3 linked regions of the Homo sapiens genome follow. The protein of the gene in region 2 binds, or shares a complex with, the protein of the main gene of each other region. Each region holds a gene or a part of one and is shown on either strand. Other genes may lie near its edges.

Region 1 (10,131 bases), on a different chromosome or scaffold from region 2:
CCTTTTTCTTTCTTTCTCTCTCTCTCTCTCTCTCTTTCTGAGGCAGGGTCTCACTCAGGTTGCCCAGGCTTGGGTGCAATGGCATGATCTTGGCTTACTGCAACCTCCACCTCCCGGGTTCAAGCACTTCTCCTGCCTCAGCCTCCCGAGTAGCTGGGATTACATGTGTGCGCCACCACGCCTGGCTAATTTTTATATTTTTAGTAGAGACGGGATTTCACCATATTTGCCAGGCTGGTCTCGAACTCCTGGCCTGAAGTGATTCACCCACCTCGGCCTCTCAAACTGCTGGGATTACAGGCATGAGCCACTGCGCCTGGCCCTTCCAGCTTTTTCTGACCCTCTTCTCTTGTGCTTCTCATTGCAGAAAAACTGGCAGGGTGCAAGCTGAATGTGGCTGAGGTGACACAGTCCGAAATAGGGCAGAAACAGAAGCTGCAGACGGTGCTGGAAGCAGTACATGACCTGCTGCGGCCCCGAGGCTGGGCGCTCCGGTGGAGCGTGGACTGTGAGTTCCACGCCACAGGGGGAGGGACTGTCTGGAGGGAGCCCGTCCTCTCGACATTCGTCATCCACATTTGTCATCCACATTCATCATCATCCCATCTGGCCTTGCATCTTAAAATTGGGTTCATCTCCCTGCTCTGTAAGAGGTAGAACATTGCAGGGGAGAAGAACAGGAGAAGGGTTAGGGAGATCCTAGAAAAGGGACCTGGTCAGGCCACAATTCTCCATCCTCCCCATGCTGCAGAGGAGAGAGGCAATGTTTATGGATGGGTGGATCAGAGGGACTTTGAGAGAGAGAAGCAGCCTTGGGGGGTTCTTGTTGGGACTCAACCCCAAATACTGGTGGCAGCAACACCTAGTGGGCTGTTTGTCTATGACCCTGGCATTATGAGATGTGACATCACGGTATTTTCAGCCAAGACATGAACCCGGCAGGTGAAAGACTAAACCAGGAGAAGCTGGAAAGTTCTCCTCGGTCCTGCCCACTCCTTCCCCACCTCCCTCCCCTGGAAGCAGGGCCATGAGGGTGTGGCTTCAGGGCTCTCTGTGCTGGGCCAGAGGTCTCCGTGCTTTGGTGAGCTGGGCTCTCAGTGGTAGGCAGGAGACCCTGGAGCCTGGCCTTGCACCCGGTTTCTTGGTATCGAGACCTTGGGCAGACCCAGGCTGTCTCGTGGGTGGCTGGGTCCGTGGGTGGGGAATCGGGTGCCTTGTAAACTGTAAAACCCTGCAGGAGAAGTGGTGATGTTGACCAAACCTGAGTCCGCATGCTGAGGAAGAGAGAGGACAGACTCAGGCAAGGCAGGGGCTAATGTCTAATGTCCCCAGAGTGGCCTCTGCTCTTGGCAGCCTACCCTTGTTGGGATGGTTCATTGCGGAGAGGGAGCCCTTTTTTAGTGCCAGAGATAATAACGCACATCCTTGTGATGGGTAAGTGGCCGTGACCTGCTTTCCATGCTCTTTTCCCTTCTGTGCTAATTTTACTATCCTGTTCCTTTCCCTCATCACTGCCCAATTTATTGCTTTTAAAAACATTGTGCTTCTAAAAGTGGTTGCACAAGTCACCTTAGGCCAACAGGAAAGGAGACAGTGAAGCTAGAAGTAAATTCACCAGGTTGCTCATCAGCTCTCTTGATTTGTCCACACTTCGCTCCATCCTTGTCTCGCTGGGGTCTCATTTAGATGCTGTGTCTCTGTTGCCTTCTGCACGTGGGCTCAGGTTCCTGTGTAACCTGATCTAAAGCGTCTCCCTTCCTCCTTCCTCCTGCAGCAATTCACGGGAAGAACCTGGTGGCCATCCTCCACCTGCTGGTCTCTCTGGCCATGCACTTCAGGGCCCCCATCCGCCTTCCTGAGCATGTAACGGTGCAGGTGGTGGTCGTGCGGGTGAGTATAACCGAGTGGTCGGCCTGCCTGTAACTCCGCCAGAGAGGCAACATCTTCCTCCTGCAGTTTTCCTGCCCTCCCCCTCCTTTTTTCCCCCCAGGAGGCTACCTTCTATTTTTCCCTTTTGACAAAATGTGTGTCTCACCCTGGCTCCGAGATAAATGATTGGAACGGGAACAATGGCATTGATTTGATGAGAGGCAGAAGCAGAGGCATGAGGGTGTTGAGGTTTAATTTTCCACATTTTTGAAAAGAACATTCATTTCTCTCCAAAGCCAACTGGTTGGAATTCAATCCCCTTGAATGTGCTTATTACTCATTGGAGGAGGTTGGCCCCGCGGGATGAAACAGACACCCAAATTAAAGCCGCTTTGCATTCGTTGGGGATTATTCATCATGCCCCATCATCTCTTTTTTTGGGTTCATTTCTCTTGATTCACTTGGAGAAATGGAACCAGAACCCAGGTCCTTCTAACAGAGGGTGAAGTAGAGTTACCTTTCTCTTGCTATTTCCCTTACATTTATTTTTTATTTTATTTTATGTTTTGTGAAAGGGTTTCACTCTGTTGCCCAGGCTGGAGTACCATGGTGCAGTCATGGCTCACTGCAGCCTCAACCTCTTGGGCTCAAGCGGTCCTCCCGCCTCAGCCTCCCAGGTAGCTAGGACTACAGGCACATGCCACCGTGCCTGGCTAATTTCAAATTTTTGTAGAGACAAGGTCTCGCTATGTTGCCCAAGCTGGTCTCGAAGTCCTGGGCTCAAGCGATCCTCCCATCTCAGCCTCCCAAAATGCTGTGATTATAGGTGGGAGCTGCCATGCCTGGCCTTATTTCCCTTACATTTAAGTGGACAGTCGCTGCCTAGGGTTCGTGTGTGCAGTTTCCCTCAGTAAATGTGCAATGAGCGCCTACTATTCTCTAAGCACTCAGCATAGGCTGCCGAGCCACTAAAGGAGGAACACATGCCTGGCGTCTGTGGGGGTGACCACTGCGGCCAGAGTTGAGGTCACGCTCGGAACCTTGGATGCCTCTGTGTTTATTTTACTCGAGACATCCGGCTCCACTTTCCTCTGGTTTTTAAACTTCTCAGTCCCGTGGTCTCTGTGGTCGGGGAGGACCTGGCTGTCACTGTGTTTTCCGAACCCATTCTGGCCCCTCTGTTACCCTGGGAGCTCAGTCTTGACCGGACGGGAATGCTCCTCTCTGGCATCCGGCAAGGGCCACCTGCCATGTGTCCATGTTTCCTTCCTAAGGAGGATGTTTGTGGCTGGTGGTGGTGACTCGGGACCTGGGGGGCCATTCCTATGGCCCCGTGTCTTGGCCACTGGTTCACAGGCAGCCGGCCTGAAAAGGCTTCCCTAGGACACATTGGGATGTGGTTCCCAAGCCTACCTACGTCAGCTCGGGGCCCCAGGAGCCCTGTGCAGGCTCAGAAACTGGAGTATTTCCTTTCAGGCTTGCACTTGGGTCCAAGATAATCTTTGCGGTTTGCAGAAAGTTTGAACCAGGCAAGCACTTGCTGGTGCTTCCTGCCATAACGGGTTAGAGGAGTGTTGTTTGGCCACGACCAAAGCAGAATGAAACGGGAGCAGGGGGTCCTGTGAACCGGGCGCAGTTACTCCCCAGACCTTAGAGCCGCCTTCTGTCTTCTCTGCAGCCCCCTGGCCTCTGAGCTTGCTCAGGGGACCCCTTATCTAACCCCAGATGGAATGGTTGGTGTAAGGGATGTGGCATTTCCAGGGTGGAAGGAAGGAAGGAAAGGGCCTTATTTACTGCCTGGCCACGTGGCTTTGGGCTGATCACTTGCTTTTGCTGAGCTGCAATGCTTTTCCCCATAAAACCAAGATTTTACTACAAACCTGTAAAACATCCAGCTTCATGTCTACAATCCTAGACCTGGGCCCAGCACCTGGTGGGTGCCTCAGGCATGTTTGATCCTTGACTAGGTGAACACAATGTCTGGACCTTCCTTGGCAGGCACTCCTGAGAATCAGGATAAATGTCACCCACACTGTTGTTCAATAACAAGCACCAACCCTGAGTATTCCATGGAGGTCAAACTCAGGAAAGGGATGGAAGCCCAGATCTTGGTGGTGTCCACTGTGGGCTGGCCCAGCGGGAAATGAGTTCCCAGTCCCTTGAGGGGTTCAGTGGTGGTTGGATTAGCCACCCAGGCTCCATCTGGAGCTCCTGTGACAGGCGGGCTGCCACCCCTACCATCACCACTGCCATGCCCCCCTCACTACCATCATTACTTTTTTTTTTTTGAGATGGAGTCTCACTGTGTCACCCAGGCTGGAGTGCAGTGGCACAATCTCAGCTCACTGCAACCTCTGCCTCCTGGGTTCAACTGATTCTCCTGCCTCAGCCTCCCAAGTAGCTGAGATTACAGGCACATGCCACCACGCCCAGCTAATTTTTGTATTTTTAGCAGAGACCGGGTTTCACCATGTTGGCCAGAATGGTCTCAATCTCTTGATCTCATGATCTGCCTGCCTTGGCCTCCCAAAGTGCTGGGATTACAGCTGTGAGCCACTGTGCCCGGCCATCATTGCTTTTCTATACCTGCCACGCTCTGGGAGAAGTGTGACATATACTGTGTCAGTTTCCTAGGGCAGCCATAACAAAGTACCACAAACCAGGTGGCTTAAAACAGCAGACATTTATTCTCTCGCAATTATGGAGGCCAGAAGTCTGAAATCAAGATGTTGTCAGGGTAGGATGTCCTCCCTCATGTCTCCTCCTCTAGGGGAGGGGTCTTCCTGCCTCCTCCAGCTTCTGGTGGTGGCTGTCAGTCCTTGGTGTTCTTGGCTTGTGGCCACATCTCTCCAGTCTCTGCCTCTGTCATCACATGGCCTCCTCCCTCTGTCTGTTTCTGTGTCTGTTTCCTCTTCTAATAAGGAGGTGAGCCATATTGGATTAAGGAGGGGCTCACCATAATCCATGATGACCTCATCTGAGCTAGTATCTGCAAAGACCCTTATTTCCAAATGAGATCATGTTCTGAAGTTTGTGGTAGATATGAACTTTGGGGGACCCTCTTCAGTCCCGTGCACACACATGATTGCAGGGGATGTTCCCTGTTATTTATGTTCCTTCCAATTGCATGCCTCACCTCTCCTGGCTGCAAAGCATAGAGGATCCCTTTGGGGAATCCTGACCTGGGGTGTTTCTCCTGAGACCCACACAAATGCCAACTCTCAAGGCCACGTGGAGACCAGAGGGTGGGGAGGAGGATAGGGACAGGTTGTGGTCGCTGAAAGGCACCCTGCCCAGGGTCCCCTGCTGTGTACTCACCCAGGCCTGGCATGCGTGTTCAACACCACCCCTCCTTCTCCTGTTGCTCTTTTCTAAGATGATCTCCGGCCCCGCAGCTTCGTCTGCCCTGTCAGTGCATCTTTCCTCAACTCTCCACTGCCTGATTTTGTATGTTTATTTTGGGGTTTTCAGAAACGGGAAGGCCTGCTGCATTCCAGCCACATCTCGGAGGAGCTGACCACAACTACAGAGTAAGTGGACCCCTGTCTTGCCCTTCCAGGCCCTGCTGCCCCGAGTGAGTGGGACCCCAGGCTGCCACTTCAGCCAGGGACACCAGCGCCCATGGGGCTGCTCCCGCTCCACACCCCTTCTCTGTAGCATGTGATTCTCATGCTGGTTCCCACCCCAGCTCTCCTCCCTCTGCACACTTTCTTCAGAGTTTTTAACATTAGAACTGAGTTACCTTCCACAGACTTTGAATTTTTTCATTCCTATCTTAAAAGGTGAGCTGTAAGAACATTGCAAAGTGGGGCAGGCAGAGAGAGTTCAGGATGGTTAGAGAGAACCATTGTCTCAGTTCATTTATCCATCTACATTAGCCCCATCAGAGGTGGGAGCTACATCTTTAAACCAGAACTTTCCTTTGACAGACACTACTAAGCCATCTGTTATCTCCTAGAGAAAGCCAGAGGGCAGGTGTTCAGAAGTCTAAAAGGCTTCAAATCTATTGAAAATAGCAAATCAAACAGTATCTGTGGTATGTGGTTTTAAGGACTCCTTGTGATAACCTGCTAAGAATCTTTAGAATTCACTGCATTTGTGCCTCTTGACTAAACCTGTTTCAGATGAAACAGAACATTTAAAAATTGATTGTCTCAGCTAATCCATCAGCTAAGTTCACAGAGTGATTAATTACTGTGTTGTGAATTCATGGATGGTATTTCAAAAATTGGAGCTGACACAGGAAACCACTCGTGGCTTGCAAGCTCTCAGGGAAGATGATGGGACAGTGGAGTGCAGGCTGATGCATGTGCAGAGGCCCATGAAGAGGCCTCCCAGTCTGCCCCAGGCCCACGAAGGGAACAGGGAGAGCTGGAAAAGGGGAGGATGAGAATGTGGTTCTTTGCCCAGCACAGTGGGCCTTTGGCAGCAGCTCTGCCTATTCAGCAGTAGGAGAAGGGCTGCTCGTGGGGAACTGGGATTGGGCTGGTGTCTTAGTTGTTTATTGTTGTGTAACAAATCACCCCCAAAGTCAAGTGGCTTAAAACAACATCTGTTTCATTTGCTGCTCACAATTCTGTGGGTCAGCAATTTAGGCTGGGCTCAGCTGGGCGGTTGTTCAGCCAGTCTCGCCTGGGGTTGCTCATATGATGCAGACATCTGAAGGCTGGATGGAGGCTGGGGAGGCTGAGATGGGCTCCCCCTACCTCTGGTGGTTGGTGTTGGCCTCCCCTGGGTCTCTTTCCTCCTCACAGTGCTGGGCATCTTCCCAGGGTGCTCTCAGGGTCCTGAGAGAGTGAGAATGCAGCTGCAGTCCCCTTGAGGCCTTGTCTTGGACATCCATACCTATGTCCTCAATTCTGTGAGTCAAAGTGAGTCACAGGTCATCCTGGATCAAGGTGCAGGAAACAGACTCTGCCTCCTTGTGCAGGAATGGCCTGTGCACATTGTTGGGTGGTGGGCATGCTGTGATAGGAGTTCCCCTCTAGGTGAGGGGGTCCCATATGAGGACAGCAAGGAGGAGCTGGGCCCCCTGCCATAAAACTAGAATGGTCCAGAGACAGAGAATGAGCAAGTGGGTGGGAGAATTGTCTCAGCTATTCATCAGCAGTAAGTGGCCCCAAGGACCTGCTGCATGCCAGCCTCCTTGCTGGATCAACAGAGACACTGAGAGGTGGGCTGAGTGCAGTTCTTTTCCTCCAGGGCGACCCATCCTGCTGATGAGAAAGGATGCATCCACAGACATGTACAGTCTAACACAGGGGCTTGTGGGAAGTGCCTCGGGGCCCTAAGGGAATTTCCAGGAGGAGGGGAGCACCCCAAAGTCAGGGAAGGGGAGATTTCAGTGAAAGCCACCTCAATCAGATATCAGATGGCCCTGAGCAGTGAGGAAGGGAGTTGGGATTTTCTAGCCTGAGTCAGTGTCCCTCTGCCAGCCAGGGTCAGGGTAAAGGAGAGGCTGGGTCACCTCTCCAGGATGATGCCCCAGGTAGGTTCTCCTCAGGGCTGGTCATCCCATCCTTGTCTCCTGTTCCTTCCCCTCCCCGTGGCTGCGGAGGCTCTGACGGAACATTTGAATCATTGGATGTCTGCTGAAAACCAGCGGCCCAAAGATCCACATTCAGTTTCCTAAGGCAGCATTGCCACCTCCTATCCAGTCTCAGTGTTCCCCTTTCTCTTTCAAGAGGTGGCTATGAGGTCACCCCTTCCAGGAAGCCCTCCTGTCTGCCAAGCAGGAGTGCTTGGCTTCCTGTTAGTTCCCTTAGCCTCTGGACACATGTGGCCAACATTGAAATATTGGCTTATGAGGTCTGTCACTCCCAGGCATCCTGAGGGCAGGGCCACATAGTGTTTATCTCCAGGGGATGTTAATTTCTGTATCTGCACAGCCTGCACATAGTAGGTACTCAAGTAAGTGCTTGTTAAATAAGATGGAGCCAAAGGACTTGAGCCTAGAGGGATTTGGGGACAAAGTAAAGACTTCCTTGCCTCTCAGGAAGGCAGTGCATGGAAAGGATCTGTGCACTCACTCACTGGGAATCTTTGAGGAGAAGCTGCTCACCACTCCCGTCTCCCCCATTGCTTCCGCTGCCGCCTGCCTGAGATCAGGGCCTGGCCTCGTGGTTCTCCAGGATCCTTTAGTTCCACAAGTCCTGCAAGTACATTGTGTTTACTCCTGGAAACATGAGTAACCTGCAACCTTGTGTGTGTGTTTGTTTGTTTATTTATTTATTTGAGACAGGGTCTTGCTCTGTTGCCCAGGCTGGAGTACAGTGGTGCGATCCCAGCTCAGTGCAGTCTTGACCTCCCAGGCTCTAGCGATCCTCCCACCTCAGCACCTGAGTAGCTGGGACTAGAGCGCACGCCATGACACCCAGCTAATTTTGTATTTTTCTTAGAGGAGGTTTTGCCACTTTGGCCAGGCTCGTCTCCAGCCTTGCATTTTTTTATTGTTTTGTTTGTTTGTTTGTTTGTTTTTTGAGACAGAGTTTCACTCTTGTTGCCCAGGCTGGAGTGCAATGGTGCAATCTCTGCTCACTGCAACCTCCACCTCCTGGGTTCAAGTGATTCTCCTGACTCAGCCTCCCAAGTAGCTGGGATTACAGGTGCCTGCCACCATGCCCGGCTAATTTTTGCATTTTTAGCAGAGATGGGGTTTCGCCATTTTGGCCAGGCTGGTCTCGAACTCCTGACCTCAAGTGATTGACCCGATTCTGCCCCTCAAAGTGCTGGGATTACAGGCATGAGCCCCTGTGCCCGGCCCAGCCTGTGTTTTGAGCGTTCCACGGCTGCTGGAAGACCTGTTGTCTGCTGAAATCTTCATATTAACCACTCTTCTGATTTAAGTACCTCCCCTCCAAACAACATTACCAGGGTGGTTAATGTGCAAATAGAGATGGTGATTTGCTGCTGACCTTGTGCAAACATTAATAATTCACACAAGCACCTCTCGTTTATAATTAGAGCAGGCTGGAACACAGCACCATGTGACTTGCGTTCTTATCAGTAGGCCTTTACCTGGGCAGCGAGGGCCCAGCTTTCTGGCTGGCTCTGTCCCTCATCCTCCATTGTGCTGCTTGTGAAACTGTGTTCTGAGTGACCCATCTCATGGCTCTCTCTGTGTTCTTGTTTGCAGGATGATGATGGGCCGGTTCGGTAAGTAACCCCAGGGAAAGTGGGGAGATGGAGGCATGTTAGGGCTCCCCCAGGAAGCTCCCAGAGAGTGTACATGGTTATCTGGAGGGAGTGGGAAACTAGATGGGTCTCACTGCCCCCATAGTTCTGGAATCCTAGAGAAAGTGCACAGCCCACCCCCACCTTTCTGTATAATGGGCTTGTTTCTCAGAGCTGAGAGTGGCTGGGTTGTGCTAGGAGGAGTGGGGTGGAAGGCTGGGTGACCAGCTAGGGGAGCAGGAGGGGCCTGGGATGTAACACTGGCTGGAACTGTCAGGGGCTGGAGCAAGAGTGGTTGAGGGTAAAAGGGAGGGAGGAGAGGCAGCCAGCACATGGAGCGTCGTTAGCTGGCTGGAAGAGAGTGGCTCAGCTCTGTGGATGTCCTTCCATGTGTATTATTTCCTCCTGGAAACCACTGGTTTAGCAGACTTCCTTAGAGTCAGGCAGCCAGGGCTCATTCCTGGCTGGTGGCTTGTGGCCTGCCCCTTCCTCTCTCTGCTCCTCATCCGTGAAATGGGAGTGTAAAAGGCTCTCCCCAGGCAGGGGCTGCTGTGAGTATTGGGTGAGATCACAGGTGAGTGCCCTGCTTGGCCGGGGGACAGCCCTCTATGTGGGCTGGTTTTATTAGTGTTGGTTTTCAGTGGCTCTTCCCAAAGAGAGAGAGGTAATCACTCTCTCTTCCCTCATGAAAGCCTGAGACCTCATCTTCATCTCGGTGAGGGATGGTAACGTTTCAACCCTCAGTACCAGGATACCCCGGCCCTCGGCCTGGCCAGCCTCAGTGCTTTGGGAAGCATTTCAAAAGAGAAACCTCTTGACCCCCAGATACCCTGTTCTCCAGTGAGCAGGGAGGGGAGAACAGCTCTTAAAAGGAAAAATGGAAACCAGATAGAAGTCTCCCACCTGCCTCTCTAGCGGAGCTGATATCTGTCTTTTGGGGGCCCTCTGGGTGGGGGTGCCACCCCCTGAGTCCTATACAATGAGGGCTGGGCCAGCTTGGCCATGGGGCTCTGTAACCTCAAGTTATTATGGGGACCAGCTAGGATGCCATTGCTGCTTATCTATTGTATTAGGGTTCTCTAGAGGGAC
Region 2 (10,131 bases):
ATGGATGGATTTATGCTGGCATTGTCTGGAGGGAGCCGGGTGTCCCCCAATAATCACAGAACAAAGACAATTAGGTCGGGGGAGGAATAAGGATAAAAAGAGACCCCAACAGACCCTGCCTGCCCTTCCCTGCCCCCCGGCTGCACTGCTGAAATATGAGGAAGAGATGGCTCCAGTGTGGGGTGCTGGCCAGGCCAGTTCGTGGGGACGTACATGGGCTGGGGTGGAGCCCCCAGCCTCTACCCCTGGGGAGGATGGAGAGTGGGCAGCCTAGGGAGAGCTACAGGAGGGAGGAGGGGGCCCAGAGGCTCTGGCAGGGGTGAAGACAAGCAGGGGGACCCCTCACGGCCCTCTGTCCATCCCGCACCAGCGGAGGACAAGGGTTCCAGTTTCAGTCGGGTTTACCCCTTCACCCCCGGGTGAAGTCTCTAGGTCACAGTCGCAGTTGGGGATGCTGGCTGGGGAAGGGGGGCAGAGACAGGGGCAGGGCACCTAGCAGAAGAGCTTGAGGAAGCAGTTCTGACAGTAAGGCTTGTCGTTCTGCTCCTTGAAGGTGCCCTTGTTGAGCTGCTTGAGGCAGAAGGCACAGACGAAGTGCTCGGGGTGGAACTTCTTGGCCATGGCGGTGATGCAGCGGCCGGTGATGGGCTTCTGGCAGCCAGAACACAGCGAGCCGCGCCGCTCGTGGTAGTGCACCTCACAGTAGGGCTGCCCGTCGTGCTCGAAGAAGCTGCCGTTCACGAATGGCGTGAAGCATTCCTGCCAGGCGGAGAGAGGGGCTCAGGGAGCTGCCCCTCGGGCTAGAGCTGCACCCTGTGTGATGGGGCCGAGGTGGGCATAGTCGGCACGCTCGGAGTGACTCCTACTTGCTAGGCGTTTCCCATGTGCCGTGTTGTCCTAAACGCTCATTTTTCATTTTTATTTTATTAAATAAATTTTTTTTGTAGAGATGGGGGTCTCACTATATTGCCCATGCTGGTCAAATGTGGCCTCCTGCAATCCTCCCACCTCGGCCTCCCACAGGGCTGGGATTATTTAGTTCTCCCAACAGGGGAGGCAACTGAAGCACACAGGTGAAGTAACTTGCCCAGGGTCATGCAGCTACTGAGGTCACAGCCTGGATTCATACACAGGTCTGACTCCTGAGCACTTAGCCAGGTGGCTGTAACAGTGTTCCCAGAAACACAGGTGTGACACTGGTCTGTAGTCAAACTCTGCCTCCTAGATTCTCATTGGAGATTCACATCACATATAGGTAGAAAAGGCTCTGAGAGGGGCCGGGTGAGGTGGCTCACACTTGTAATCCCAGCACTTTGGGAGGCCAAGGGAGGCGGATCACCTGAGGTCAGGAGTTCAAGACCAGCTTGGCCAACATGGTGAAACCCCGTCTCTACTGAAAATACAAAAAATTAGCCAGGCATGGGGGCGTGTGCCTGTAATCTCAGCTACTTGGGAGGCTGAGGCGGGAGAATCACTGGAACTCAGCAGGCAGAGGTTGCAGTCAGCCAAGATCGTGCCACTGCACACCAGTCTGGGCAACAGAGTGAGACTCCGTCTCAAAAAAAGAAAAGAAAAGAAAAGGCTCTGAGAAGTCCTGCAGGGAACAGTGTTTCCCAAACTCATTTGGTCAGAGAGCCCTTGTTGAATCATTAATAACCCCTGTGGGGCCCCCAGAATGCAGTGGTTTTGGAAACCACTGCCCATTTCTGTTGAGTCTGCTAAATACTTGCATTATCTCATTTAGTTCTCACACACTCTCCTCCCAAATAGGAATGGCCCAGGGCCGCTGCACAGGGCTGGACTGGGGGACATGTCTACCTTGCTCCTGGTTTGTCCCAGCCTCAGTACAAACCCTGGCCCAGGACCTACTGGACTGGAGGAAGGAGATCCCCTGCCTGCTCCCCCAATTAATAACCCCAAATGAGGCCTCTGAGTTGGATCCAGACAGCACAATGAGGAAGACCCCTCTCTCCCCACTGCCTGCTCCTCGCCCCTCCAGATGTGGTCAGGGGCTCCTTACCCGGCACACAAAGCACTCAGGATGCCACAGCGTGTTGAGGGCTGAGATATAGTTCTCCAGGATGGCCCGGGCGCAGCCGCCACACTTGGGTGCGAACATGTCGAAGTAGTCCTTGCGACAGTAGGCCTTGCCGTCCTTCTCGTGGAACCCTGGGGAGCGGGGGTTTTGGAGGCACAGTTCATTCCGGCTTCCAGAAGTGGAGCCACTCTGACTCCAACCTCAGCAGCGTCTCCCACCCCCACCTCCCCGGCCCTCCTAAGAGGCGGTGGGTCAGTCCGCCGGTCCAGCCCGTACCTTCGGGACCAAAGAAGGCTCCACACTGTGCACAGAAGAAGTGTTCAGGGTGCCACGTCCGGTCAAGGGCTGTCACCACTTTCTGTGAAAGCAAAATGTGGGATCAAGGCTGAGCTCTGGGCAGATCTCACAACTGAGACGCCCAGCAAGGCCGTCCTTCCACCCGCAGCTCATAGCCATAGACAGAGCAAAACACTCCCAAGATGGGGGTCTCTCCTAATTGTGCTGTGAATGCCTCTAAGAATTCAGAGTTACTCAGGATGGGACAAGCCAGACACATACCCTCTCCTCTACTCCTCACCCCAAGTAGAGGGCACAAGTTCTATGACTCCCATTTTATAAGTGAAGAAACATAGGCTCAGAGAGGCCAGGCATTTCCTAAGTTCACAGAGAGGGAGAGTGAGGCCGCTGGCATCCAACTCCATTTATCTCCTCAGGGCTCCTGAGTCCTGGGAGTCTCCACAGAAAGGAATCGAGATGGGAGGTGAAGGGAGGTGGGGCTGCCCGATGCACATCGGGACAGGCTGTGGTTCAGGTGTGGCTGTGAATCCGGCCCCACTGTTCCCTAGCCCTGTGAGCCTCGGGCATGTGACCTCTCTGAGCCTCCCACGGCACCCCCTGCATCCTCAGAGGGCTGCGGTGAAGCTGGAATGAGCGGAAGCGGGCGCGGTGCCGGATGAGGAACTCACATCCAGGATGGGGCCGTTGCAGTAGTAGCAGCGCGGGGAGAAGAGGTTGTGGTAGTCCTTTTCACAGTAGGGCTGTCCATCCCGCTCGAAGAAGTTCCGGGATCCGATCTCCTCCTGGCAGTGGGTGCAGACGAAGTGCTCGGGGTGCCACGTCTTCCCCATGGCGGTCACAACCTGAGGAGGAGATGGAATGCGGTCCAGGGCCAAGGCCAGCCCCGGAGCACCCCCACCCCTGCAGGAGTCCACTGGCCACACCCCTGCCCACTCCCCCTCATCACCTGCCCGGCGATGGGCTTCTTGCAGGCCCCGCAGACTCCTTTGGCGACTGTGGCGACCCCCAGCTTGTTCAGGTCAGACTGCAGGCTCCCCAGCATGCTGTCCAGCTGGCTCCCGGGCTTCGGGGGCCCCCCAGGGGGTGAGCTGCTCCCTGTCTTCCCCTGGGCCATGAACTGTGGACACGGAGGGGGCTGGTCAGGACTCCTGAGGCTCGGGGTACGGTGTCTGGCAGCACAGGGATGGGGGTACTTTTCTCCCTCCTGGACAGATGAGCTGATGGAGACAAGAAGTACAACCTCCTCCAGGGGCCAGGAGCCCTAAAGTGGGAGTGACGTCAGCAGGACTCCTGGTGGTCGGAGGGGCCCACCAGGGTCGGAAAGGCTGAGGGCACCCAGCAGGCATGGCCAAGCCCAGGGAGAGCACGACACGCAGGACACCCAGCCCAGCCTTGGCACTGACCCCTCCCTCGTCCTGCCCTCCGGGGCTGCTCCGCCCGCCGTCCCGAGGCCAGCCGGCCGCCCAGCACCGCTCCCCATCCGCTCTTTGCTCCAGGCCCTGGATCTTAGATAGGGGAAGAGATGAGGGTAAGAAATCTTTTTTAAAAATTAAGAAAGAATACAAGACCTTGTCACTGGACTAAAAGGGAATCTAGGATGAGATCTGAGGGTTTCTCCCCCACCGGCAGGACCAAAATTGGGGGAAAAAATCTGGAGAAAAAGAGCCCTGAGAGAGAGGCCTAGGGAGAAAGGAAGAAGGACAGGGAGGGGAGTCGACCAAAGGCAGAGGAAATGGCAAGGGGAGGTGGCCGGGCTCAGTGATGAGGCCTCACCGGGCGCTGGGCCTGGGGGCTGGAAGGGAGGAGACAGGTTTCTGGTCTCCCTTCTGGAGTGGCTTCTTTCCTCGATGGGAGCCCGGGGCAGTACTGAGGACCAGTCGAGGAAGGAGCAGACATGGGTGGACCCACAGAAAAGCAAGAGGGCAGCGGACCTTCTGAGTGGGGGAAGACCGGGGTCAAGGTTTACGGCAGGACTGTGGTTACTGTGCTGGGGCTTGTAGATGGAGGGATGGAGGGTATCTGTGTATGTGTGTGTGCACGTGTGTGTGTGCAGAGTGGGGGATGGCTCAGGCATTAGGACAGGGGACAGAAAGGGAGGGGCTCCTTTAAGGCCTGCCTGCATCGGGGGGAAGAGCGGGTCCTCATCAGTCTGGCAGCCCACGGACCTCATGGTGTGGGGTGCAGGAATGGGAAGGGCAGGGCCCTGCACCCCCTCATCATGGGGCTCTTCCCCTGCACTCTGGACCCCAGAAGAACCACAGGTATAAGCTGAGGGCCCCAGGGGGGAGGAGGCGAGCAGGCTGGGCAGGGGAGAAGAGCTGCTGGCCGCGGCGTCTGTGCGATGCTGGAGCAAAGGGACAGAAGGAGAAGCCAGGACAGAGATGGTTCTTCTCAGGGGAATGGGAGAGCCAGGAGGGAAGACAACCTGGGGAGAAGAAAGGAGGGAGAGCGATGAGGAAGAAATCGCCAGCTCAGCCCACAGGGGTGGCGGGACCTCCCCAGGCTCCCCCTGGGCCTTCCCACTCTGCACCAAGAGTGGGGCCAGTCTTCCAAAGTCACAGGAGGCAAGAAACCCCCACCCTCTCCCCAGATCTCCCCTCCGGCCAGCACTGGGGCCAGGGAAGAACCCGGACCCCAGGTGCTTGGCTCTGGCCCAGCCCCAGCCATGGGCATCTCCTCGCCACCTTCTCTACGAGCTGCCCCCCGGCCCGCTTCCCACGTGGCTGCACAGTGATGATGACGCCCTCGGTCAGCCAGTCCTGGGCAGAGGGCCCCGCCGCCTCCGCCGGCTCCTCTGCCTCAGGCTGGATGCCCAGCCGCCCCTGCAGCTCCGCGATGAGCTGTTCCTGGGATGGGGTCCTGCTCAAGGTGGCAGGGTCCAGCCGGCGGCGAGGGGAGGGCTCCCGGGACATGGGGTGTGCGTGGCCAGACTCCCAGCTCCTCCTGATCACAGATCGGATCTAGGGGGAGGGGGAGGGGAGGCTGTCACCGTCCCACTCCCAGCTTGCACAACGCTGCTCAGGCCACACTCAGATGCCTCAGGAGAGGGAGCACAAAAGAAAACCACCAAAGAACCAAGCGGAGGTGGGTGGAGGCACGGGGAGGGGGCAGATTGGACCGGTGGAGGTGGGTAGAGGCAAGGGGAGGGGGCAGATCGGACTGGCTCCAGAAGCACAGGCTGCGAGCGAGACCTCTGACCCAGCATTCACCTCTAAGTTGGCCACTGACCTTGGGCAAGACACTTAATTGCCATGGGCCTCAGCTTCCCCTTCCTTAAAATGGAACCACAAGATTTTCTTGGCTTACCGCACAGGGTTTGCACAAGAATTATTCCAGAGGATGTAAGTGCATGCCCTTGACAAGGCATACGGCTTTTTCTTTTTTCTTTTTTTTAATTTATAATAGAAAAAGTGTTTCCTTCCAGGAACTTTTTTTTGGGGGGGGACAGAGTCTCGCTCTGTCGCCCAGGCTGGAATGCAGTGGCGCGATCTGGTCTCACTGCAACCTCCGCCTCCTGGGTTCAAGAGATTCTCCTGCCTCAGCCTCCTGAGTAGCTGGGATTAAAGGCATGCACCACCACGCCTGGCTAATTTTTGTTGTTGTTGTTTTTTGTTTTTTTTTTTAGTAGAGATGGGGTTTCATCATGTTGGTTCGGCTGGTCTCAAACTCCTGACCTCGTGATCTGCCTGCCTCGGCCTCCCAAAGTGCTGGGAATACAGGTGTGAGCCACCGTGCTCAGCTAGCCAGGAACTTTTTTAACTAGTTTTTTTTTTCTTATTTATATTATTATGCTAATATTATATTATGCTATTATACTTGTTGGTAGTGTTTTGGGGGTTTTTGGTTGTTTCGTTTTGTTTTCCAAAGAGGCATAAAGCTTGGGGGATTTTTTTTTTTTTTTTTTTTTGAGACAGTGTCTTGATCTGTTGCTCAGGCTGAATGCAGTGGTGCGATCACAACTCACTGCAGCCTCAAACTCCTGGGCTAAAGCCATCCTCCTGCTTTAGCCTCCCCAGCAGCTGGGACTATAGGCATGTGCAACCACGCCCAGCTAATCTTTAATTTTTTGTAGAGACAGGGTTTCACTGTGTTGCCTAGGCTGGTCTCAAACTCCTGGGCTCAAGCGATCCTCTTGCCTCAGCCTCCCAAAGTGCTAGGATTACAGGTATAAGCTACTGTGCCAGGGTGAGGCATAAAGTTTTTTGTTGTTGTTGTTGTTTTGTTTTTGTTTTTTGAGACCAAGTTTCACTCTTGTTGCCCAGGCTGGAGTGCAATGGTATGATCTTGGCTCACCGCAACCTCTGCGTCCTGGGTTCAAGTGATTCTCCTGCCTCAGCCTCCTGAGTAGCTGGGATTACAGGCATGCGCCACCATGCCCAGCTAATCTTTTTGTATCTTTAGTAGAGATGGGGTTTCTCCATGTTGGTCAGGCTGGCCTCGAACTCCCAACCTCAGGTGATCCGCCCGCCTCGGCCTCCCAAAGTGCTGGGATTACAGGCGTGAGCCACCACACCTGGCCCGGCATAAAGTTTTAATTTAAGCAAAAAGCAAGTAATAAAAGTACTGTCAGCCACGGCCTATTGAGGGACCACATGCTGTGTTCTAAACACTTTCCAGGAATTATCTCATTTAGGTCTCCGGACAATCTTGATGGAAATTCTCCCCACTTTACAGATGAGAAAACTGAGGCTGAGGGAGGGGGTTGCCCAAGGTCACAGAGGTAGCAAGTGTTAGACATGTGGTTTGTATCTAGGTCTATCTGGTTCCAAAGTCCATGCTGCTAACCATTTCACCACATCAGAATGTCAAGGACAGCTCATCTGAAAGGAAAAAGCCTCAACAAGGCAAGAGGTGGGTTGACGCTATGAGAAATGCTGGGTCCACAGAGCCCACTGCCAAGTGCTGACTGTCAGGTCCGGCCACAGTGTCTCAGCATTTTCTGCCCAAGCAGACATGCGCAGAGTGGGAGGCTGCATGCAGTTAGCGAGGAGCGGCCCACACTCAGACCCGCCAATGGCCATGCCCAGCAGCCATGCGAGCTGGTGCCTGCCTGGCCAGAGGTGGAAATCCTCTCCGTGGTGCTGGGTGTGCCCATGGCCATGGCACATGGAAGCTCTGGCTGTTCCTTCCCGTCCTGGGTGGCAGCTTCCGTGGTGCCCTCTGGGCTCCTTGGGGTTTCAGGTCCCTGGGTTGGCCTGGCCACACTTCCCCTCTCGGTCATCTTTGCACCTAGCTGCTCCGTGGTAACTGAGGCAGGGGAGCTGCTTCCCAGCCTCCCTGGCTCTGGCCTTGGCCTCTCCTGCTGTAGGCCATGTTCCTCCGTGAGAGTCCAGGTATCTGGGAAGATGGCCTGCCGGTCCACTGCCACTACAGCTGGCTCTGTTACTTCTTGGAAGCTTCGAGCAGCTCCAGAGGGGGGCATTCTCTCAGGCCCGAATACCTCCGAAGCCCATGGCTGCTCCCATGTGGCAGCCAAGGCCTCCTCTGGGCACGAAGGGCTGGCTGGTGGCCCCTGGGGCTCCCCAGGCTCTTGGAGAGCTGTGCTCCCAGCACAGGGTACAGTGTGGCAGCGGGGAGCCCCAGAGAGCTCACTTGTGATGGTCGGCAGGTGCCTCCAATCTCGACCCTGACTCTCTGTGCCCACTGCCCACAGAGAACCCTCCACAGAGGGAGACCTTGAGTTGAAGGTGTCAGGCATCACCCCAAGACCAGCCAAATCAAGCCAGCTGGGGGCTACAGGAGGTAGAAGGCCTCGTCCACTCTGCTCAGTACAAGGGAACTCCGGAGTGTGGCCCTGGCCTCGAGGGGAGGGTATAGTGGTGGGTGGCAGAAATACAGATGGCATGGGAGGAGGAGAAGGAGGAAGGGAGCAGTATGAGGACGGAGCAGAGCTGGACAGCCCCGGGGCACTCAGAGCCACAGTGGAGGAGCTGGTCTGGAGAAGAGAGAAATGCAGAGGGGAGAGGAGAGAGAGAGATGAGGGGAGTGAGGACGGCTGCACCTTGCAGGCGGTGGGCTCGGCCTTAGGGCTGACCAAGGTGGCTGCAAAGCTGACGCACAGGACTGACCCTTGAAGGAGACCCAGACCCCAAAAAAGCTTCCCTGGGCTTTGCGTGCTTAGCCCTCACCAAACCCAAGCAAGAGAAAGCAGCCACCAAGCCGTGCCTGTGGAGCCACCCAGGGAGGGTATGAGAAAGAAAAGACCACGGTAAGGTGGACAAATGGGGAGCCAGGTGGCTACGGAAGACAGCCCCAGGCACAAATGGAGGGAGAGCCAGCCCCAGGGGCTGCTGAACCCGCCTCGGACACTGGCCCAACTCGGCCATGTCCCTCCGGACAATCCCAGCTTTCCTACACCCCAAGTCCTCTACGTCTTCCACATCCTTGCTCCAGGGATCTGACTAAAACCACTGCTGCTTCTCCTGGCATCAGGACACAGGCTGTCTGAGAAAACGGCAGCCTTAAAAGCACCGGGGCACAGCTCCCTCAGGCCAGGCCCTGAATCCAACTTACTTGCTTCTGACCATGGCTGCTCAGAACCACTGGCCTGGAGCTGGAACTATAGCACGCAAGGGTCACAGGGCCAGGCTCAACCCTCCACCCCAGCCACACTCCTGTCTCCCACCATGAAACCTCAGCTGAAGGGAGGCTAGGAGACACCATCAGGGCCAAGGGTGCAGGGACCGTTCACTCCCCTCTCATATTCCCTAGGTCATGCCCCAAAGGTCTCCAGCTGACCCACGTGGAAGTATGAAGTCAGCAGCTGCTGGTGAGTTCTGTCAATATCAATCCCCAAGGAAACACTGAATCCTCTAAATTAAACATCTCAGGCCTGGCAGGACTGGGGAGGCCCAGCAGGGGAGGGGAAGGGCAGGTACCTCGTGCAAGCCTGGCCCCATGGTTTCCCACAGACACGCTCGTGGGAACTCAGAGGCCCTGGAGGGCGAGAGGGAAGGATGGGAGAAGAGTAGCAAGGGAGGCTTGTGGATTCAGGATCAGAGGCAGAAAGAAAGAGGATGTGTTGAGGACAGCTAGCGTGGGAGATGGGGCTCCAGGGCAAATGACCTCCCAGGCACAGGCTCCCAAGTCCCACATGGCCCAGCAGAGAATGCCCTCCCCCACCCAGAGCAGCCATCAACACAAGGTTCTTTGTCCCAGCGTCCCAGCCTCCTGATCCCCTCGACCTGAGAGGCTGGGAGCACCCAGGGAGGAAGGAATGTCCCAGCTGAGCACTTCTCCAGCTTGTCTGCCTTCACTGGCTACTGCAATCCTCAGGCAGGCTGACCCGGCCCTCCCTCCCCATCTCCTGGCATCACAGCAAGGCCAGGGCATGACAGTGTCCCTGGCTCAGGGGCAAGGCACCCAAACACTGAGATGCCAAGATCCAGCTACCCACACTGAGGTAAGGGAGGAGAAGGATGAGGGAGGGGCGGCAGGGCAGGGAAGATGGAGGGTTCACAGGGCACCTTGAAATCCGACAGCGAAGCCATCAGCTCGTCCAGCTCCCTGGTGGCAGAGGAGGCCGAGATGCGTGTCTGCTGTTGGGTGGAGGTGACGCGCTGCGGGCTGCTCATCTCGCCCTGGTTCACAGTGATGGCAGGGCTGCAGGGTGGGCACAGCATCAGTGGGGAGCCCACAGTCAGCCCCACACTTCCCGGGGATCAGATCGACCTCTCACCTCGGACACTGGGGTCTCACCATCCCCAACCCCAGGGAGGTCCACCAGCTCCCTGTCTCTCCTGGGGACCCATCACTGGGTCAGAAGAAAGGGCAGTTCAATGGCACCAGGAAGTGCC
Region 3 (9,970 bases), on a different chromosome or scaffold from region 2:
TTTTTTTTTTTTTTTTTGAGACGGAGTCTTGCTATGTCGCCCAGGCTGGGGTGCAGTGGCGCGATCTTGGCTCACTGCAAGCTCCGCCTCCCAGGTTCATGCCATTCTCCTGCCTCAGCTTCCCGAGTAGCTGGGACTACAGGTGCCTGCCACCACACCCGGCTAAATTTTTGTATTTTTAGTAGAGACGGGGTTTCACCATGTTGACCAGGCTGGTCTTGAACTCCTGACGTCAGGTGATCCACCTGCTTCAGCCTCCCAAAGTGCTCGGATAACAGGCATGAGCTACCTTGCCTGGCCCTCGACTGATTTGAAATGAAGAACAGAGAACATGAAATTTTAATGGCAATAGATTAAAAGAAACTACAAAGATATATTGTTGATAATAAAGAAAGAATGAGGGAGGAGGGCAAGGAGAAAGAGGTAAGAAAAAGAAATGGATAGTGGAGGGAGATGTAGCAAAAGAAGAATGGGAGACAGCAAGATTCAGGGACGGGTCCACATGCCTAACCGCACACAAAAAGGGGGAGCCACCAAAGGACCCACAGAGACACTTTCTAGGGCTTGAAGAGTTAGCCAAAGTCAGTTACATTGTTCATGGCCAGCTGTTGGCTGTAGCTCCAGACCTTGAACTATTATCACCTTTTATCCTTGCCTTTGAATGGTTAGTGCTCTGGTCAACCACTGTTCACAGCTCTTTAATTGCTCATTGAAACATTCTGAGGCTTAGCTTAGGTCACAAGCCAGAAGCTCCCCCAAATGAGCTACAATTCAGTAAATCATTCATCTCCAAGTATCTCCTCTGAAAAGGGAGTATTCGAAACACTATCTCATAAAACATTCAAAGCACCGATGAAAATCCAAGGAGAAAATGCTGCTTGCACTGAAACGAAATCCATGGAAAAGTGTTCTGAGTTTTGCATTTACAAAAAAACCGGGACTTCAGCAGAACTGAGTCCCACCTCAGCATCAGCCAGCATCACCACCCGCACACCTGACTTCCCACATGTCCACATTCTGCATGCTCCCGTGGATCTAAAGGCCTCAGTTGGTCCTGAAACTAAGCAGCCTCCATGACACTTTGCAATCTGAGGGTCAACAGGAGCAATCCCAAGGAGATTCCAAGACAGTCTCAGGCTGAGGTTGAACTCTCAGTCCACCCCCCCACCCCCCATCCTAGGCTACCAAACCTCCCCTCACTTCACCCCAAGGGCTGCAGAAGAGCTCAGCTGTTTCAGAGACAATAGAGCCTCCCCCTTTCAAGCTCCATCCTTTTCTCCTCCAAGCTTGGTTTCTGTGTTTTTCCCTTCCCCACATAATCTGTCCCCAGCCTCCTACTTTCTCGTCTGTTTCTCCAATCTCTCTCTTCTTGTGCTCCTATTTCCTCCTCATGTTTCGCTATTCCATCTTAGAATCATTTCTCTCAGAGGAAGAGGGGGCTTAACAGATACATATAGGCCGGGCACCGTGGCTCAAGCCTATAACCCCAGCATGCTGGAAGGCCAATGCAGGCGGATCGCTTGAGTCCAGGAGTTTGAGACCAGCCTGGGCAACACCGCAAAACTCTGTCTCTACAAAAAGTACAAAAATTAGCTGGGTGTGGTAGTGCGTGCCTGTGGTCCCAGCTACTCGGGAGGCTGAGGTAGGAGGACTGCCTGGGCCCAGGAGGTCGAGGCTGCAGTGAGCCATGATTGTGCCACTGCACTCCAGCCTGGGTGACAGGTGAGACCCTGTCTCAAAACAACCACCACCACCAAAAAACAAAAAAACCCAGATACATCTGGAAACAAGATCTACAATCTATCCCCCCGAGTTCCCACCCCAGCTCCACATCTTGCTAGCTGTGCAACCTTGGAAAAATGGCCAAACCTCCCAACCCCTCAAATTCCTCAGTTTGGCGGGGAAGGGGGAGGAACATGGCAATCACAGAGGTCTTTTATAACTCTCATCTTCTAGATAGGTAAACGTTCACCTGTGTAACCATGAATAAACCAGCAAGTTAAACATCCACAGGGAAAGAGAACAAATTACAGAAACTCCCTTTCCTCAGCAATCTATCATCCCACCCTCATCTCCCACAACCACTCACTCTGGGGTCTGTGCCTCTCACTCTGGACCGTTCTAGCTCTGAATTGTTTACATACTTACAGTAAAACCTCACAAATCACACTAATCAAGGAAAAGGTAGATGTGAATCCAACAGAAGCCTGCATCCTAGAATGCTTCTTCTATGCCATTGTGCAATACTTTGAATTTATTATCAATTTAGCAAACAGGAAAGAACCTGAAAATGCCATCACAAACTGTGACTCTAAGAACAGTGGAGTTGTCAGGAACCCTGGAAGACCTTCTGCCCTATCATCCTCCACTTCACCAGCAAGGACACAGGCCCAGAGAGCAGAAGCCACTAGCCCAAAGCCCAAAGATTGGTGGCCAGGACCAAAGCTAGCTGTCCTGCCTCTGGTCCAGAGCTTCTCCACCAAAGCTTTTTGAGACCATCCATGCCTTTCTCCTAGAGACAGGTCAAATCCTAAATTACCATAGAGTGCCCTCTACAGCAAATCTATCTCCACATCCAGGGAAGGGTCTGGAGATAAGTTAGGATGACCTGATCATTATCAATGCTGCACAATAAAAACTTTCTTTCCTGGCCCTGCCCTTTCATTGTTTACAAAGAAAACCCTAGACTCTGCTATCTGTATTGAACTCTTATTTTAGAGAAGGGGAAAGAGAGGAACAGCTGAACAGTGCTTTGTTCTGCCAGGAAGAATTTGCTCATCCTTTCCCATAACTCCTACCCACTCCCCAATATGCCCAATCTCTTCCGAAAAGTATACAGAAACTCTCCAACTACAACAAATGAAAGCAGGTAGGAGAAGGAAAAGGCCAACAAGGCGGGTATCGTCCACAAGATGACAATACCCTCCCAACTCTTTACCCCACAGGGTAGACAGCAGTTCATTTCAGTTGCTAATTCCCTGCAGGGAAGTCGCCAAAGGAGTGGTCTCAGGGCCCTCCAGCTGAGAAATGTGCTCTCTGCAACCCCTGGAGAACTAACCCTTTCCTAACCATCTGCTCCAACAGTGCCTTGGGCAAAGGTGCCAACAGACCAACCCTTCCCTTCTTTCCCCTCAGGCCAAGAAAGAGACATCAGAGCTTGGTTGGCAAGGGGCTATTTAAGGCAGCATCCAGAGGGCGGGGCAGAAAACTGCTGGAGGCATCCTCCTCCTCCACCCCTCCCCCTCACAGCCCAAACACACGCCCCTCACTCTGTAGACAGCCATCTGCCTCATCGGTGTCTGAAGGCTGTAGATATGTCCATCATCTGTCTTCTGTCATTGATGCTGCTGACCCCTCTGTGTCCACCCCACTTTTAATCCAACCCTCCTCTCTTCGATCACCACCAAGATACCTTTCCAACCAAAACCACAGAATTGAATCTAAGCAGAGGAGCTCAAAACACAAGGAGAGTGAAGACAGCCAATCCATCCCCCGCCTCCACTTAAGAGGAAAAAAGGGCGCGGGGGGCTGGGCGGGGGGGGGGGTGTTGAGGGGAGAGATGGAGTCAGAGGCCTGACACGCCAGATAGGTTCCATGATGTCTCTAGATGAACCTCCCTCCTATTGACGATGAAACCAATTCCAGCAATTTCAGCAGGTCGGCCCTGTGACAACAGGGGCATCCCAACGCTCAGTGTTTAAAACAAAAATCCAAAGGCTCGCCCAGAACATGCTGGGAAAAACCGAGGACTGAACAAAACGAGCCATGCTCAGTGGGATCCCTTCTGCTTTTACGTAGCAATGTAATAGCGTAATAAATTCTTGTCTGCCTGGAGAAAGCATGCACTGGTGAATTTCAAAGCCATCTTACGACAGCGGATGCATGGGGATGCAGAATTCGACAGCACATTCCCCCATGAAGGAAACATAATGACTTCAAGCCTCTTTCCCCTCTATCTTGAATGGCGCTACCACGTATCAAGGAAGCCACATCGGAAAGCAGCGAGGTGGTAGCAGGGGATGCCCGGGGAATTCGGAGAAAGGAGTTGCTTGCTGTCCATGTCGGTGATGAGCTGCCTAGCAAGATGCTGTCAGCCACTCGGGGAGAAGAAGGGGCACGGGCGGCACGGGCAGGCGCCGTGTCCCCGGCGCATACTAGTCCCCGTTCATTCAGGCGGGTCCGGCCAACCGCGTCGTCCTTGCGCCCCTCCCGCCGCCCTCTCCAGGGGATGCTGATGAATGAACACACCTGAGATGCCTCCATCCCGCCGCTCGCTCCCTCCGCCTTCCTCTGGCTGCTGCAGAGGTGCCCCTCCTCGGTAGTTTCACTTTACAGCACAAACCCATTCGGGCTTTGATGTCTCCTCCACCCACCCAAATTGCAGCCACCCTGAGACGGGCGGACATTCTCTCCTAGCAGAGGCCATGATCGTACTACCCCACACCCACCAAAAAAGGAAATTTAAAAACCCCCAACCCTGGAAGCCCCCAGATCCTCCGCACCCTGGGGAACTTTCCTTGAAAGACTGGGGATTCGCCGAGCAGGCAGGATGGACGGTTCGGCCGCGAGGGACCACCGCTTTCCCTGTGCCCATGGGGGGATGCTCTGGGGGAGGGGGTCCCCCAAGTCCCTCCAACAGCTGGCCCTTTAAATGCGCCTCCTCCGAGCGCGGAACAAAGGCGCCGCCCGCGGGGGCCGAGCCGCGCACACCCCCGGCGCTGCCGCCGCCGAGCGGGCAAGCGCGGCCGGGCGGGCGAGCGCGGGCTTACCTTGCTGGTCGCCGGGCGGGCGGGCTGCGCGCGTCCGCCCCACTCGCACTACACGCTGCAGCTGGCCCCGCTCTGTTTTTCTGGGACTCAGCGCTGACTTCACCGACACTCCGCGGACAACCAATGGGCTGCGGTGCCCGCCCCCTCATTAGCATGCCTCTGGAACCGTCCACTCTGGCAGCGCCCGGCCAGCGGGCGGTGCCGGGGGCGGGGCCGGGCCCAGCCGTGACAGGAAGGGGCGTGTGCGCGGATGGGAGGCGAAGAAGTGTCCGGCGCCCGGCTCCTGGCATTGTGAGCCCGCCGGCCTCCGCCGGTAACGGGCGCGCGGGCCTAGTAACCCTTTCCGTCCTGGCCGGGCCGGACGCTGGCCTGGCGCGCCTTCTGGTCCTTCGGAAGGGTCGCCCACGGGGAGCTTGGAAGGAACCTTAGACGTAAAATAACAGTGATAAGTTATTTAACTCCTGGGCCTCAGTTTACCCATCTGTAAAATGGCATAATAGTCCGACTTCGTAAAATCTAGTGAAGATTAACATAGTTAACATAGGTGATGCATTTTGATCAGTTCCTGGCCGTCGTGCTACATAAACGTTTGCTGTTGTCATTCGTGTGCTCTGTACCAGCCAGTGTGCTTAATGCTTCCCGGATATTTCCTCATTTGATCCTCTTAGCCTGATAAGAGAGGAACGATTACTAATCCATATTTTTCTAGTGAGAAAACTGAAAATAATTACTATTTTTATGCAGGAAAACTGAGGTGTAGTTTAAGTGGCTTGTCCGAGGTCACACAGCAAGTGGTGCAACCAGGATTTGAACCCAGGCTCTGAGATTTCACTCATGCAACACACATATATTTAGAGGCTCTGTGGCAGTGCTGGACCCCAGTGTTAACTGCAGAGAACAAGACAGGCAAGGCCTTTTCCCTTAGGAAGCTTCCATTTTAGTGGAGACAAGTAAATAAATAAGATCCTCTACAATGTGAAAAGTAGAGTGCATACAATGCAACAAGGTCATTGCAAGTGGGGGGAAGGCACCGTGTTAGATGGGGTTCAGAGCTAACCACTGTGCTATGCCATTCTCCTGACCTCCTCTAGTCCCCCTCAGAGTTACAGAAAAGGAAACAGAGACAGGGATCAGAGTGGGGAATCTGCTGGCCCAAGGTCGCAGAGCCAGCAAGTACTGGTCTGGAACTTGCTCCCTCCATGCCCAGCTTCCCACATCCCTGAAGATAAGACACTCGCCCTTTGGGCTGAGCACAACTGATTTTTGTCAGCTGCCCTTGCAAGCATCTTCAGCCAGAGCACATTCTCAGTGAACAGGCTGTGGGTGGCAGGGTAAAGACTGGCCTTGATAACTGCACAGACTGATCGGAAACTCATCAGCAAAGATTCTTAGATGTCAGGGAACGGTGACAAGTCTTTGGTGACCACCTGGTGTCCTCTGCTGTGTATTAAAAAAAAAAAGAAGAGTCCTAGCCATCTGGAAGCTTACTCTATAAATGAGAAAACACTGGGGAACTACTCAACCTAGGGAGCCCCCAGCCCACGGCCTTCCCCTATCTGCACCTCATCCTGCAGCTTTTCAAAGAACACTTCCCCGGCTCTCCTATTTATTTACTCCACAATCTGTGTAAGACAGCTCTCTCTGGGCTATAAAGTAATAAAACAGCTAGTATTTATTGAGCACGTCTAGGCTGCTATGCACCGTACTATACTTGTGCTAAGAGCTTTACATGCGTTAACTCACATCCACCACACGACCCCAGGTGGGAATAGTGTCGTTATCCTGAGGTTATCCACAGAGGTGTATAACAAAGGGTAGAGAGACTAGTTACTTACCCAGCAAATTCAGGGCAACACCATTTTAGAATAGCCAAAAAAAAAAAAAATCAAAACAATCCAAATATCCAATTTGAGTGCATTGGTTAATAATAGTACAACCATATGACAGAATATCATATATTAATAGCTACAAAAAATGAAGAGGTTTATTGACACATAAAGATGCTCATAATAGGCTGGGAGTGGTGGCTCACGCCTGTAATCCCAGCACTCTAGGAGGCCAAGGTGGGCAGCGGTGGATCACCTGAGCTCAGGAGTTTGAGACCAGCCTGGGAAACATGGTGAAACCCCATCTCTACTAAAGAATCCAAAATTAGCTGGGCATGGTGGCGTGCACCTGTGGGAGGCTGAGGCAGGAGAATTGCCTGAGCCTGGGAGGCGGAGGTTGCAGTGAGCCAAGATCGTGCCACTGCACTACAGCCTGGGCAACAGAATAAGACTCCATCTCAAAAAAAAGAAAAAAAAAAAAGATGCTCAGATTATTGAATGGAAAAATAGGTAGAAAACTAGTTTTATACTGCAATCCCATTAGAACTATTCTTATGGGATTGCAAGTAATTATTTTTGCTCATCCATAGTCTTCTGATTTTTTTCTTCATAAACATCTACCAACTTGTCCAGTGAAAATAAAATAATTTTAAGATGAAAAACCAGACTCTATCAATGAAGATTTCATCTACACTATCTCAAGGAATCTTAAGGGAGGCCTAAGGCTTCAGGTCATCCCTCAAATATTGAACCTCTCTGCTGTTTCCAGTCTGTGTCACTGTTGCATGTCTCACTGTAAGGCATAACATTGCCATTAGGATTTATGAAAGAAATGGTAAAATAGTGGAAAGTCAAGAAAGAAGGAAAGTGGAAAAAACAGAAAGAAAAATCCTACTGGTGGCCAGGCGCAGTGGCTCACGCCAGTAATCCCAGCACTTTGGGAGGCCGAGGCAGGCGGATCACGAGGTCAGGAGTTCGAGACCAGCCTGGCCAACATGGTGAAACCCCATCTCTACTAAAAATACAAAAAATTAGCCAGGCGTGGTGGCACGCACCTGTAATCTCAGCTACTCGGGAGGCTGAGGCAGGAGAATCGCTTGAACCCAGGAGGTGGAGGTTGCAGTGAGCCAAGACCACACCACTGCACTCCAGCCTGGCGACAGAGCGAGACTCCATCTCAAAAAAAGAAAAGAAAAGAAAAATCCTACTGTCCTTCAGGACTCATCTCAGGTGTCTCCTCCAAGAAATGTTGAAAGTCACGGTCTTTCGATGGGTTGGGTTTTTGTTTTTGTTTCTGTTTTTGAAACAGGGTTTCACTCATTCCTGTCACCCAGGCTGGAATGCAATGGCGCAATCTCGGCTCACTGCAGCCTTGATCTTCTGGGCTCAAGGGATCCTCCTGCCTCACCCTCCCAAGTAGCTGGGACTACAGACATGGGCCACTGTGGCCAGCTAATTTTGTGTATTTTTGGTAGAGACAGAGTTTCACCATTTTGCCAGGCTGGTCTCAAACTCCTGGACTCAAGCGATCTGCCCCCCTCAGCCTCCCCAAGTGCTGGGATTACAGGCGTGAGCCACCACACCTGGCCAGTCCTTCAATGTTTTAACGCTGAAAGCAACCCAAGAAATCATCAGGTGTAATCGTGTCAGTTCATCCTATCTCCAGTCATTCATAGATTCATCTGGGCAGCAGGCCCTGAGCTAGGTGCTGGCTACAAGGTGGTGAGAGAGATACTTGCTCCCTACTTCCCAAAGGTGAGCCCTAGGGAATCAGAGGCCCAGGGAGGTTCGTTTGGGCAGGGCCAGCCCTGTGTGGATGCAACCTGTGCTGAGGAGGGCCCCACACTTGATTACATGCTCTGCTGTCACCATCTTGAAATTCTTCATTTTTGAACAAAGGGCCCTGCCTTTAATTTTTGAACTGAGCCCTGTAAATTATGTAACTTGTCCTGGGGAGGGTGAACCTTGAGGCCTTGTCAGTGCATCAGTGACTGACCCTTGAGTAAAACAGTAAAACTTCCTGTTCTCCAGTCTCAGTCTCCACCGTTTCTCTTAAACCTGGGTCCACAGGGAAACGGGAGGACTCCTGCCTTCCAGCCCTACAGTGCTTCATTTCTTCCTTTCTCATGGAACTTGCCATATTTGGCATAAACTCCTGTATATTTGTGTGTAGTCTTATCCCTCATTTCCTCTCCCCAGCAGATTGTAAATTCCATGAGGTCGTGCCTTGTGTCTGCTCATCTCAAACAGTGCTTAGTCCTGTGTTTTACACGCTGTTTAAAATGTGCTTAAGTTTAATTTAATCTTATTAGTAACTCCTCGTTTTCTCTTCATGTGTATCAGATTATTCCCAGCAGTCCTTCCGCTGTTGGAGAGAATTTAAAATATCAGGCGGAGAGTCATGCACACAAACCAGGATCATAAACATGCTGTGGGACGCATCCCCAAGCAGGTCATAAGTGTGAGGAATTAGGAAAGGAGGGAGCAGGATTTTTCAGAGGACAGCCCAGAGTCGTCAGCCTTTACTTCATCTTCAGAGCCACACAGATTGGGAGAGAGGGAAATAAACTAGAGGCCCTGGAGCTGGCAGTAGCATAACAGTTAAGGCTGCGGGCTCCAGAGACACCTGGCAGAATCCTAGCTCCAGTGCCTAGTGTGCAGACTTCTCTCATCTGTAACCTGGAGAAAACACAACCCTCCATAGGTTTACTTGCAAGCTGAAGATGAGATCGTGCATGGATAGTGCCTACACACTGCCTGACACACATAAGCATCAATAAGTGAATATTATTTTAACATTACTAGGAGGCAGTGTTGAGAAAGACAACTTCTTAGAACACGTTGGTTTTGGTAAGTTGTTTTCCCAGTTACCCGAAATATTGACCATAGTCATTTTCAGAGATGCCGTGCTGGAGAATGCCAGGAGAAAAGAAGAAAACCAAATGAGAGAAAGAGAGTTATGAATCAAAGAGTTTTGCTGCTGTATCACCAAACACCCCTTGATGATTTTTGTCTAATGCCTTCTGTAGCATCTTACAGAAAGCGAAGCAAGTAGTGGAAAGAGCAAAACTCCTTAATAACTGATTGTCTTGTTTCTTACTGATTAATTACTGAGAAAAAAGTAAATCTACAAACGCGTGCCTCAGGGCACGGAACTGATTTGAAGATGATGGAACGCCCGAGCCAAGAATTCCACATTCCTTAGAGGTCAATGCTGGTGGACAATGCTTTAGGGAAGTTTGGTGAAATGGTGGAGGTTGATCAAGAGAAGTCTATGGGGCCAGGTAGAAACCCAGAGGAGTAGGAGGGATTGCTGTGCTTGGGAAGCAGGGATAGGATGAGTATGAGTAACCCCAGGACTCTGGTCACAGGGCC

Evidence for each region.
Region 1: the proteins of PXN (region 2) and PARVB are in contact, whole or in part, in a crystal structure (PDB 4EDN), measured with the Homo sapiens proteins. Residues at the interface, in NP_001074324.1 of Homo sapiens: Asp3, Leu4, Leu7, Leu8, Asp10, Leu11, Glu12, Ser13; in NP_037459.2 of Homo sapiens: Ala241, Phe242, Thr244, Leu245, Ala249, Lys252, Val255, Val256, Ser259, Leu260, Tyr354, Phe357, Thr358, Lys361.
Region 3: the proteins of PXN (region 2) and SORBS1 are in contact, whole or in part, in a crystal structure (PDB 2O9V), measured with the Homo sapiens proteins. Residues at the interface, in NP_001074324.1 of Homo sapiens: Val45, Pro46, Pro47, Pro48, Val49, Pro50, Pro51, Pro52, Pro53, Ser54; in NP_001030126.2 of Homo sapiens: Phe876, Phe878, Val900, Asp901, Asn903, Trp904, Ile917, Pro919, Thr921, Tyr922.

The regions. Positions count from the first base shown.
Region 1 is NC_000022.11:44,131,120-44,141,250, forward strand, and holds part of PARVB (beta-parvin), read left to right. Parts: intron 1-367; coding exon 368-508; intron 509-1,774; coding exon 1,775-1,890; intron 1,891-5,340; coding exon 5,341-5,399; intron 5,400-9,004; coding exon 9,005-9,024; intron 9,025-10,131. UniProt on the Homo sapiens protein: Adapter protein that plays a role in integrin signaling via ILK and in activation of the GTPases CDC42 and RAC1 by guanine exchange factors, such as ARHGEF6. Is involved in the reorganization of the actin cytoskeleton and formation of lamellipodia.
Region 2 is NC_000012.12:120,211,822-120,221,952, forward strand, and holds part of PXN (paxillin), read right to left. Parts: exon of another isoform or gene 9,938-10,131; coding exon 9,802-9,937; exon of another isoform or gene 9,494-9,801; intron 9,105-9,493; exon of another isoform or gene 8,271-9,104; coding exon 7,386-8,270; intron 5,296-7,385; coding exon 5,020-5,295; intron 4,761-5,019; coding exon 4,452-4,760; coding exon of another isoform or gene 4,109-4,451; intron 3,841-4,108; coding exon 3,739-3,840; intron 3,597-3,738; coding exon of another isoform or gene 3,453-3,596; coding exon 3,282-3,452; intron 3,178-3,281; coding exon 3,004-3,177; intron 2,397-3,003; coding exon 2,315-2,396; intron 2,170-2,314; coding exon 2,021-2,169; intron 1,008-2,020; exon of another isoform or gene 814-1,007; coding exon of another isoform or gene 781-813; exon of another isoform or gene 760-780; coding exon 493-759; 3' UTR 1-492. UniProt on the Homo sapiens protein: Cytoskeletal protein involved in actin-membrane attachment at sites of cell adhesion to the extracellular matrix (focal adhesion). Recruits other proteins such as TRIM15 to focal adhesion.
Region 3 is NC_000010.11:95,556,551-95,566,520, forward strand, and holds the start of SORBS1 (sorbin and SH3 domain-containing protein 1), read right to left. Parts: upstream 4,822-9,970; 5' UTR 4,770-4,821; intron 1-4,769. UniProt on the Homo sapiens protein: Plays a role in tyrosine phosphorylation of CBL by linking CBL to the insulin receptor. Required for insulin-stimulated glucose transport. Involved in formation of actin stress fibers and focal adhesions.